Linked DNA regions of Homo sapiens: region 1 is linked to region 2. The links come from fine-mapping of genetic effects on plasma protein levels. A gene starts in region 2. The other region holds a variant in brackets. All regions are shown on one strand. Distances are from middle to middle.

Region 1 (5,318 bases), 16 kb after region 2:
GGAGTCCTGCTGTTAGTGTAGACTCTGGGAGCATGCCCAGGTGCGTGAGAATTTGGGGGTAGAAATGCATTAGCCTGTGCCCATGTGCCTGCGCATACATGATGGATGTAAAGATGCCAGGCTGCCGGCGTGGGTTCTGGCCGCTCCACCCAGGTATGTCTGTGGGCCACCTGCCCCAGCTGCCCCAGCTCCCACCACAGTCCCTCAGCCTGGCTGTGGCTTTCCTCCTTGCTGCCTCCAGGCTGTGGACCCTGCCTAAGAGAGGAGACACTGCAAGGAACCAGACTGGGACAGGAGAAGCCCTCATCCTCACGGTCCACCCAACCTCCCCATTCACCAGACAGCAAAGGCTGGGAATGGAGGAAATGGAGACTGGGCACAGCCCCAGGGCTGGGCCTTCCTCACTGAGTGTCCTTGTCCCTCCAGACTTGCCCATGCAGCAGAACATGGCAGTATTTGAGTTCAACGGGCAGAGCGGCTACCTCCTCAAGCATGAGTTCATGCGCCGGCCGGACAAGCAGTTCAACCCCTTCTCAGTGGACCGCATCGACGTGGTGGTGGCCACCACCCTTTCCATTACGGCAAGGCCCTGGGGCACACAAGTGGCCGGGAGGCTGAGGTCTTGAGTAGAAGGGCACAGGAGCCCACCCCTCACTCAACTCGCAACCCCCTCCCCTGATATCCTGGAAACTTCAGCCCCAGCCAGTTCCTGCAGTAGCAAGTTGCCTTGGAAACTGCCTCCTCCTCAGCACTGGAGGCTGCCACTTGGTCCCCATGGAAACCAACGGGAAGGGCTGAGGCTGGGGTGGGGGAGGGGAGGAAGAGTGGGCAGAGTGGGGCAGCCGGAGCCCCAGGTCCTGGGGGAAGGCATTGTTCCCTCTTTGGCTAGGGAGGGAGGTGGGAGGCCCACCTCTTCCCTTCATGCTAGAAGCACCCTGGTCCTCAGAGCTTAGCTGTAACCCGTGGGCTACACAGCCTCTCTACTCATGGCCAGAGCTGAGTGAGGTTCTTCATAACACCCAAGAACGAATGCTTCAGCTCTAGGCAGCCAGGGGCCCCAGATGCTTGGGGAAGAGCCTGGGTGGGGATTTGATGCTGGTTTTCCTGGGCCCCTACCCCCAGGTGATCTCTGGGCAGTTCCTGTCAGAACGCAGCGTGCGCACCTATGTAGAAGTGGAGCTGTTTGGCCTTCCTGGGGACCCCAAGAGGCGCTATCGAACTAAGCTGTCACCCAGTACTAACTCCATCAATCCTGTCTGGAAGGAGGAGCCCTTTGTCTTTGAGAAGGTGGGGGCCAGGGCATGGCAGGGCAGAGTCTGTCTAGTTCTTGGCCTCTACTTACAGACAAGAGGAAGTAAACAAGGCAGCTCCTTGACCTTCCTCCTCCTCCTCTTCCCATCCCTCACCCTGGGCCCTCCTGTTTCAAGAGTGCAAAACCCAAGTTTACAGAAGTTTACTTGGTAGGCAGAGTGTGTGTGTGTGAAGATTAGAGGCAGAAATGTGCACTCAGGGTTGAGGTTCCCATGGGAGTCTTTTGCCCCACTGGATACCCACTGGCAAAGCTGTCAAGGGCTATCTGTGCCAGGCCCCCTCAGCCTTGGGCTGCAAATCCAGCCCTCCTCCCCTGTGTGGAACCAGCCATGGCATGTGCTGTGGGGATGTCTTTGTATATGGCCTAGAGTGTGCCCTCTGTCTGTCCTCACCAAATCTGGTGACACTCACCATGTTCTCACACTGATGCTGAGACTTCTGGAGCCAGGGAGGGGGTCAGCTTGGCTCCTCTCTCCCCTCCCAGCCTGTCATGTCCCCAACTCTCCCCAGATCTTGATGCCTGAGCTGGCCTCCCTCAGAGTGGCTGTGATGGAGGAAGGCAACAAGTTTCTTGGACACCGCATCATCCCCATCAATGCCCTAAATTCTGGTAAGGAGTGGGGTCCTTCACTGTTCCAAGATCAGCAGCAGGAGCCTGTGCACAGGGTGGGGCAGCTTCTGGGAGGGGGCCTGGAGTGAGGCCTTACCTAAGCCCTCACATTGTAAGGAGTAGGGCAGAACAGTACCTCTCCAGGAACCTAAGAGAGGCGGGAACTCTGCCCACCTAACAGAATTGCTGTAATTTTCTGAAACGGCTGGGGCAGTTTCTCAAGTAGCTGACACTTATGGGCATTTAAAATTTGCTAAGGGCTTATAATACATTCTCACTTCATCCTCACAATAACCACATGAGTAGACACTCATCCCCTCTTCATAGATGAGTAAAGTCTCAGAGAGTTAAAGTAACCTGGCTGAAGTCACACAGCCAGGATGGTGCAGTGCCAGACTCAGACCCTTGGGTCCTAGGCTGTGTGTGCACAGTGCTGGCAGGAACGGGCTCTGGCTCACTGCCTACCCTGTCCTGTCTCACAGGGT[A/G]CCACCACCTGTGCCTGCACAGTGAGAGCAACATGCCCCTCACCATGCCTGCGCTCTTCATCTTCCTGGAGATGAAGGACTACATACCTGGTGCTTGGGCAGGTAGGAGCCCATGGCATGCCAGGAGCCTCGGGGTGTCTGTTCCCCCTTCCTTCCCATCAAGCCAGCTTCCAGAGTTGGGGTGGGATCCAGATGGGGCATCCTGGAGTGGGTGAGGACAGGGGAGACTTCCAGCCACATCTCCATATACACTATGTTGTAATGTCCTGTGCACCCACCCAGATCTCACTGTGGCCCTCGCCAACCCCATTAAGTTCTTCAGTGCCCATGACACGAAGTCTGTGAAGCTCAAGGAGGCCATGGGAGGTCTGCCTGAGGTCTGTGTTGCCTGCACTGCTGCCAGGGGCTCACCAGAGATTAGCCCTATTTATGGGAGAGGCTGGGGAGAGGGCCGAGTCCCAGGCTCGGGGAGAGAGGGCTGTCAAGCCACCTTCCTGACCTGCTCTCCCTACACAGAAGCCCTTCCCACTGGCGAGTCCAGTTGCCAGCCAGGTCAATGGGGCGTTGGCCCCAACGAGCAATGGGTCACCAGGTATGAGCTTCGGTCCGCACACCTACTGGGGGCACCTCCACCTCTGCACCCACAGGCACTTCCCTTTAAAAAATTTCACCTAGGGAAAGTGCGGGGCAGGGGGCACATACTGCGACTCCCAGGGGGCGGTGTGGAGGAGGCGAACGGAGCCAAGGGGCCCCCCAGAGCACCTGACAGCCCAGCCCGTGGCTCTTGCAGCAGCCAGGGCCGGGGCCAGGGAAGAGGCTATGAAAGAAGCTGCGGGTAAGGCCTGCTGAGCCCGGTGATCTCGGGGATGAGCCTGGGGCGGGTCCGGGGCTCCTTGGGGGTTGGACGGGCAGGACGGCCTGGCCGGTGTTGCGCCTCACCCGGGCCTCCGCAGAGCCGCGGACCGCCAGCCTGGAGGAGCTCCGGGAGCTAAAGGGCGTGGTGAAGCTGCAGCGGCGGCACGAGAAGGAGCTGCGAGAGTTGGAGCGGCGCGGAGCGCGGCGCTGGGAGGAGCTGCTGCAGCGGGGCGCGGCGCAGCTGGCGGAGCTCGGGCCACCGGGCGTGGGGGGCGTCGGGGCCTGCAAGCTCGGTCCCGGCAAGGGCTCTCGCAAGAAGAGGTAAGGCTCGTGGCGGTGCCCTGCCCTCTGCAGCGCGGGTGGCGCAGGATCTCAGGGCCTGTCCCCACGTGGCCTCCCCAGGAGCCTGCCCCGCGAGGAGAGCGCCGGAGCCGCGCCGGGCGAGGGCCCTGAGGGCGTGGACGGGCGCGTGCGGGAGCTGAAAGACAGGCTGGAGCTGGAGCTGCTGCGGCAGGGCGAGGAGCAGTACGAGTGCGTTCTGAAGCGCAAGGAGCAGCACGTGGCCGAGGTGGCCGGGAGGGGCAGGGCGACAACCCCACCAGCCCCACCGACCCCACCCCCCATGGACCCCATTCGCCCCTCTCACCGACCCAACCCCCTCACCGACTCCCCTCCACCGACCCCCGCCCCCCGTACTCCCTCTGAACAACAAAGGGCTTCTCGCCAAGCTTACTTCCTCTCCCTGCAGCAAATCTCCAAAATGATGGAGCTGGCCAGAGAGAAACAGGCGGCAGAGCTGAAGGCCCTGAAGGAGACGTCGGAGAAGTACGACTGCCTCCCTCCCACACCTGCTTCGCCTCCCAGCAAGGGCTCAGCCGCACAAAACAGCTCCTTCATGCCTGTCTCTCTGCAGCGACACCAAAGAGATGAAGAAAAAGCTGGAGACAAAGAGACTGGAGCGGATCCAGGGCATGACCAAAGTCACCACAGACAAGATGGCCCAGGAGAGGTGAGCCCTGGAGGGGAGGCCCAGGGCTGGGCAGACCCCACTTCAGGTGGAAAGGGGCCTCTCTACAAATGGATCCTGACTCACTTCCCAAAGATGCATCTGTCCCCTGGCTCTCCAAAAAGCGGATCCCCCCTGTCACCTTTGATCAGAGTGTCCTCCTCAGACAAAACACGGAGGCCAACACTACATGGGCAGAGCTCTGGAGGCAGCCAAGCCTGCAGGGAGGGAGCTGAGGCCTTGGGATTGTAGCCTGTCCACTGTGGTGGCACTGTTTCCCACGGAAGGACAGTGTGTTTTGATGGGGAAATGGTTCCCTCAGAGGGCCCCAGGACTCCCAGTGGCCCCTACATACTCCTTGGGTCCCCACACCTGCCCCCAGCTGGTTCCTGCCCTATGTTGGATTTCTCATTTGCCTACATCCTGCGTAGACTTCATGTTACCCTACTCTCCCTAGGGGTTTTCTCCCTTTTCTAAAACTCCAATTACACCAACAGGTTGAAGAGAGAGATTAACAACTCCCACATCCAGGAAGTAGTGCAGGTGATCAAGCAGGTGTGTAAGGGCTGTGTCCTTCCTAAACACACACACACACACACACACACACACACTCTCTCTCTCTCTCTCTCTCTCTCTCTCTCTCTCTCTCTCTTCACAAGTAGGAAGGGGTGGCCCCAGGCCCTGACTTTGCCCTTAGGAGATGCACTGCCTAGCGCTGTCCATGCAGCTGGGGTGGCAGGGGACATCCTGGGGTTCTGGCCTGTGTATGGAGGTTGGGGTACCAGCCTGAAGGGATCTGTCTCTGGCCAGTTCTCATGTGTGGAAATGATATGGGCTAACTGGCCCATATCAGGGCCAGGGGAGGCTGGGACTGGCGAGGGTCAGGGGATGAAGAGGGAGTGAGGAAGCTTCCTGAGGTGCCAAGGAATAATGGACCTGAAGCTCCCCTAGGGATCATTAACCACAGAACACAGCTGCCACCTACTGGGTCCTGACCTGTGCCAGGCACTCTGCCAGGTGCCTCACATGAGCTGTCTTGTATAATCTTTTA
Region 2 (5,359 bases):
AAAGGTGGGTACAGCCCCTGATCCACACGAACTGCTGGAAGAAAAATCCAAAGAGAAAGTCAGTGAAGACGTTTGTAGAAAGAACTGTTGAAGAAGGAATAAGAAACTGCCATTTTTCCTGTCAGTGTCTGCTAATAAGTAATAATAAAATAACAATGATAACTCATAATGATAATGATAGTATTATTGAGCTCATGTGTAGGCACTGTATTAAGTACCATTCATTATATTCTTTAATCCTTGCAACATCCCCATGAGGCATTATTATCCCCATTTTACAGGTGAGAAGGCTGAGGCCCAAGAAGGTTAAGTATCACAAGATAAACCAGCTAGTAAGTGGCTGGGTTCCTAGAGTGGTGAGTGTGGCTCCCTTTGCCAGACTGGGAAACAGACACCATAAGAGCCATCTTCCCTCCAAAAGAGGGCCAGCCCTTGACCAAGATGGACAACAGGGTTCCACACTCCTGAAACCCACTGCTTCAACCATCATGGCATCAGATAAGAAACCGACCTAGTCTGATCCTCTTATTTGGCTGGCAGCTGTGGCACCTGAAGGTCTGAGTTCAACTTCTGCCATTAAACTTCTCTGATGAGCAAACTGGGAAACCAATGCATGGGGCTCCCACATAGCACTGGCAAGTGAACAAATGAACTTGGGACATATGTGCTGGGGTCCAGGTCACAAGCATGTCCCTTGTGGGAGGCAACATTTGGTTGAATATAAGTTCTTACCACATTCTATGGCCCAAGGCTCCCACTTGCCAAACTCTCTGGCATAGGTGTTCCCGTGGGTCACAAATGACAGACCCAACCGCAACTTCCAGGACATGCATGCTTTGAGTGCACCCAGCAGGGGGCATCCTTGCCCTTCCACTGCCCACCCTGGAGGGGTGAGACTGGCCCACTGCAGGGTTGCCCTCTACCCAGCTCAGCCCAGGAGCCCAAGGCCACATTTCCCAAACGGGGCATTCATGTAACTACCCTGATTTTCTCTACTATTATTTACATAACATTTTTCTTTGTCAACACAAATTTTCAAACCTAAATGTATTTTTAAAAGCAAAAAGCTCTTTGATGAAGATTTTCCGCTCTCCTGACTGCCTGGATTTTCTGCATTTTTGGAGCTAGCTTTGCAGGAGGTCAGGATGTGAGCAGGAGAGTACAGGCCCCCACTGAAGCTACAGTTGTGGTCCCAAGAACAGTGCAGGCAGTGACATCACTGAGTAAAGATGGGCAAGGCTTTGTTCTGTGGATTCGGAGCTGGAGATGGAAAGGAACAGAGTGAGGAGCCCTGAAATCCTGAAATGAGGAGAGGAGGCTGTCCCTTTCCTCCTCAGGCTGAGGGGGAGGAATGGACTGGTCTCTCCAGGCCCAAAGTGGAGAGGGGGCTGATGGCTACAGGACAGATGAAAGGGAGGGACTTGGGTGCCGGGACCAGGGCAGCCGCAGGTGACAGGTGCAGGGGCTTTGGGAAGGGACAGGGATTTCCCTTGCAAAATCCATTCAAACAGATATCGAGGGAACCTGATCCCAGGGAGGAACCCAGAACAGCATGGGCTGCCAGAGGGGCCCCCAGAAGGGCCCCAGACTGGAGGGAGGGAGAGAGGAGAGATGACGCTAAGGGACTGGGGGAAACGAGGAAGAAGAGTCCTCTGAATTGTTACCATTTCCAGAGGCTTGGTCAGGCCCTGCTCCGGCTCCATCCCCCGGCCCTAGAATTGCTCTTCTGCAGATTATTTCTGTGCTGGGAATTCCCTTAGCTCCAGCCTCCACTGGGCAGTTTATTATCTTAATTCCGCATGAAGAGTGTCCTCCCTCACCCTCCACCCTGCCCTGGACCAGACCTCCAGCCGCGACAATTCTAGGGCCTGGGTGAGGGTCTTACCGTTGTTGGGGGTATGCAAAGCCCCATGGGGGGGTGACCCAGGGCAAAAGGCCAGGCCCCAGAGGGGAAGGAAGTCTTGGGTAGAGCTCCCTGCCTCCCAGGCTGGGCTAAGAAGGGCGATAAGAGGAGCAGATTAGGCAAGAGGAAGTGGGCTGGGCTGAGCTGGACTGGTGCTGAACTCCCTGGGCCTGGGGCAGAGTGTGGGTCAGGCACCTGAGCAGCTGGGGCTGAGCCTGGCCAACCAGAGCAGCCATCCCTCCGCCCCAGCCCCGCTGCAGGCTGGGGTACACAGCAGAGGCGGGCACACGGAGGAGAGAGGAGAGCGCAGTGGAGGCAGGGGCTAGGGCTGCTCAGTGGGGGTCCAGGCCTCAGGCAGTCCCAGAGGCCCAGAGGTGGGAGTCTGGTGAGGTGGGTGAGGGGAGTGATTGCCTTGCCTCATGTGCCCCTCATTTTCTTTCTTTTTTTATTTTTTTCGAGATGGAGTCTTGCTCTGTCGCCCAGGCTGGAGTGCAGTGGCGCCATCTCGGCTCATTGCAAGCTCCGCCTCCTGGGTTCATGCCATTCTCCTGCCTCAGCCTCCCGAGTAGCTGGGACTACAGGCGCCGCTGCCACGCCCAGCTAATTTTTTGCATTTTTAGTAGAGACAGGGTTTCACCGTGTTAGCCAGGATGGTCTCGATCTCCTGACCTCGTGATCCGCCCGCCTCGGCCTCCCAAAGTGCTAGGATTACAGGCGTGAGCCACCGCACCCGCCCGCCCGGCAGGTGCACCTCATTTTCATGGGGGAGGAAGCATTGAGAAAGAGGAGCCGTGTGTTCAGCAAACTTTGCTTATTCAAAACACTCCATTCCAGCTGGGCCCTGTCCCCACCCCACCCCTGCCTCTACGGTGCTCCCAACCTTTGGGGTCAGATGCCCATGCTCTGGACCCTTCCCCTGAGGAGGTCCTTTCTCCTAGTGAGCTCCCTGTGCCTTCCCTCAGTCCAGGCCTGGGCAGCAGTCTCCCCAGCTGGTCTCCATGTCGTCCTTCTCCAGCCCTCCTGGGCCAAATCTGACCAGAGACCACCACAGGGACTGAGAGGCCCTGGCTCCAAGGCGACCCGGCCTCATGACCACGTCTCCGCTGTGAGCAGCGCAGAGAAGGAAGCCCAGAGCAGGAAGTGCTGAGAGGCACAGGGTGGGGCTGGGGGTGGGGGCGGGGGCCTCCAGAAGAGGCGGGGGCTTCCTGCTTCAGCCTCCTTGGGCAGAAGCAGTGACCACAGGCCCCCATGGCAGGCAGGGCGGGTGGGAGGAGGGTGATTTACAAGGCAGATGGGCCTCTGGCTACAGCTCAGTCCTGCACTCAGCCAGGGCCACCCCAGGGGCTATAAGAGCAACTAGATTTCTGGAGCAGCTCGGGGATGGGTGCCATTTGAGCCCAGCTTGGCTCCCCCTCCTGGCTGGCCTCCTTCCTGCCCTTCTGCCTGCCTGTGTCTGCTGAGATTCTGCAAAGAGGAACGCTTGGCACCATGTCTCTGCTCAACCCTGTCCTGCTGCCCCCCAAGGTGAAGGCCTATCTGAGCCAAGGGGAGCGCTTCATCAAATGGGATGATGTAAGTGGGGCAGGGGCCTCAGCTGCTGGAGCACCAGGTGGTGGGGGCCGGGCTGCTACGGGGCTTTGCTTGGGTGGGAGGATTGGTTTATGTCTCCTAGGATCCAGGCGCCTGTGTGGTTTGGCCAGGCAGCTGACACCACTGCTTGGATAAACAAACCTGGGATTAAGGGTGTATGTCCCCAGCTAAAGGGCTAAGCCTTGGTTCTAGGTGTGAGAAGTGGGTGAGCTGCCTGGGTGGTCACTGGAGGTAGTTTATTTGGGTCTGCTTCTCTTCTCCTTCAAACCCCCAAGAGAAGAGGAGGAAAGTGCACCCCAGAGCTGAGGCAGGCTAGGAGGAGAGGTGAGCTCGTCCCCGCTCCCAGCACAGATGTCTTGCCCTTGCTCCGGCAGGGCGCTCAGACCCAGCTCCTTCACCCCCTCCACTGGGCATCATCCTGTCCAGGGAAGCCTTGCTCTCCCCTGCGCTGCTGTGGGGGCAGCCACAAAAGGCCCCTGGACCTAAGTGAGAACTAGAGGCTTCTGCTCCCAGGGAAGGAGCTGATTTGACTTCTGCTACCCCTTGCTGGGCTCAGCATTGCTCCCCGATGCAGGCCTGTCAGCAAGGGAAGGGGAAGACACTGCTGCACCCTGCAGCCCTCTCTCTGCTGTGTCTGTTCCTTCCTACACGGGGCTGCTCCCAGGCTCTGGTTCTCCTGGCCCCTGAAAATGTTACCTTAGGCCAGGGATTCTCTTAGGCTGGAGAGAACAATATGGAGATTCTCCTTCAGGGAGGGGAGGCTGCTGGGCTCGCCCAGTCTGAGAGTTAGAGTGCTGGGCTTGTCCCAGGAAGGGAAATGAAGGCTTGGTGGGGGAGGGAAGACAGCCCTTAGTGCTGACTTGTCCACCTGATGGGAGGTGGGATGAGGGGGTCTGGGTCTAGGCCCTTCGGGGCTGGGCTAGGCTAGGGGATCTCGCTGCCCATGACTATGGGTTGGGGCCCTGTGGTGAGATGCTTCCTGCTTCCCTAGGAGTGATGTGGGGTTGGTGTAGCATGGCAGTGGCATGGAGGTGACATGCCCCAGGAGCCTGTGGAATGAGGGAAGTGGCTCAGAATGAAAAGCGAAGTGGCCTCTCTCAGTTCCTCTGGGCAGTGTGTGTAACCTGACTGGGCAGAGGGTCACAGGGTGGCAGTGGAGGTCGGGGGTTGGTGGCCAGCGGAGACTGTCCTTCTTCCTAAGCTGGCACCTGTGTACCTGGCTGTTCCCTTCCCCTCTCCAAGGTAGGGCATTGGATGTTCTCTGGATCCTGACCTGCACAAGCAAGAATGTCCCAAGCCTATCCACAGGTCCATGCTGCTGTGAGACAGGGCTCTGCTTTCAGGCTGCTTTTGGCACAGTTAGTGGATGGCATGGGTGTGCTGTGCCATGTTGAATAAGCAGAATACATAGGATGTAAGCAAATCCCAACTTTATTTCATCTCCCATGGCCTCTTTACAATATATTTGGTAGGAGAAGCTCTCCCCCTGGCCATGGAAAGAAACTCTGCAAGGCCACAAGACATTATATTTACTCTCAGGTAACACAGTCCAGTGGTCACTTTTCATCACAAAATCCAGTCCGATGTCAGAAACTGGCTATAATCAAAACTCCAACCTTTATTTACACTGACATCTTCTACCCTTCTCCTTCTAGGAATGGTTTCAGGTAGGCTGCAGGCCCCCTGGAAAGGGCCTTGGTGGGATTCCCTGCTGGTCCTGCTCAAGGCCCCTCTAGGCATGAGCTATAGGGAGGGAGGTGGGAAAGGGGTAACCAAGTTCTATTTAAACAGGTGCTGTCATAAATTGGCTCATGCTTTCTGAGCCTGGCAGAAGCTTAAAGCTGATTCTTTCTCTGGAGGACATTT

Evidence for each region. PIP is the chance, under the fine-mapping model, that this variant and not a neighbour inherited with it causes the effect. The UK Biobank Pharma Proteomics Project read protein levels with antibody pairs (Olink). The fine-mapping took linkage between variants from a reference panel, not from the people measured, so its PIPs are less certain.
Region 1: its variant is fine-mapped to the plasma level of the PLCB2 protein (UK Biobank, PIP above 0.99). The variant lies in the coding sequence of PLCB2. If it changes the protein, the assay may bind it differently, which can mimic a change of level.

What each region holds. Positions count from the first base shown.
Region 1 is chr15:40,289,529-40,294,846 of GRCh38, reverse strand. PLCB2 (phospholipase C beta 2) reads left to right here. Exons shown (of 32, transcript NM_004573.3): 19 at 427-581; 20 at 1,123-1,287; 21 at 1,822-1,921; 22 at 2,404-2,508; 23 at 2,689-2,783; 24 at 2,923-2,998; 25 at 3,197-3,241; 26 at 3,360-3,582; 27 at 3,664-3,829; 28 at 4,010-4,086; 29 at 4,175-4,270; 30 at 4,765-4,822. Among named protein-coding and RNA genes, the nearest start is that of ANKRD63, 9.1 kb to the right of the region's middle. RefSeq lists enhancers at 2,450-2,994, 2,995-3,540. The variant A/G (reference allele first, on the strand shown) is at 2,407.
Region 2 is chr15:40,305,705-40,311,063 of GRCh38, reverse strand. It overlaps PLCB2 (phospholipase C beta 2), which reads left to right and starts at 3,129. Exons shown (of 32, transcript NM_004573.3): 1 at 3,129-3,475. The coding sequence starts at 3,392. LOC112268152 (a long non-coding RNA gene) reads left to right here. Exons shown (of 3, transcript XR_002957721.2): 3 at 282-1,027. RefSeq lists a silencer at 796-999.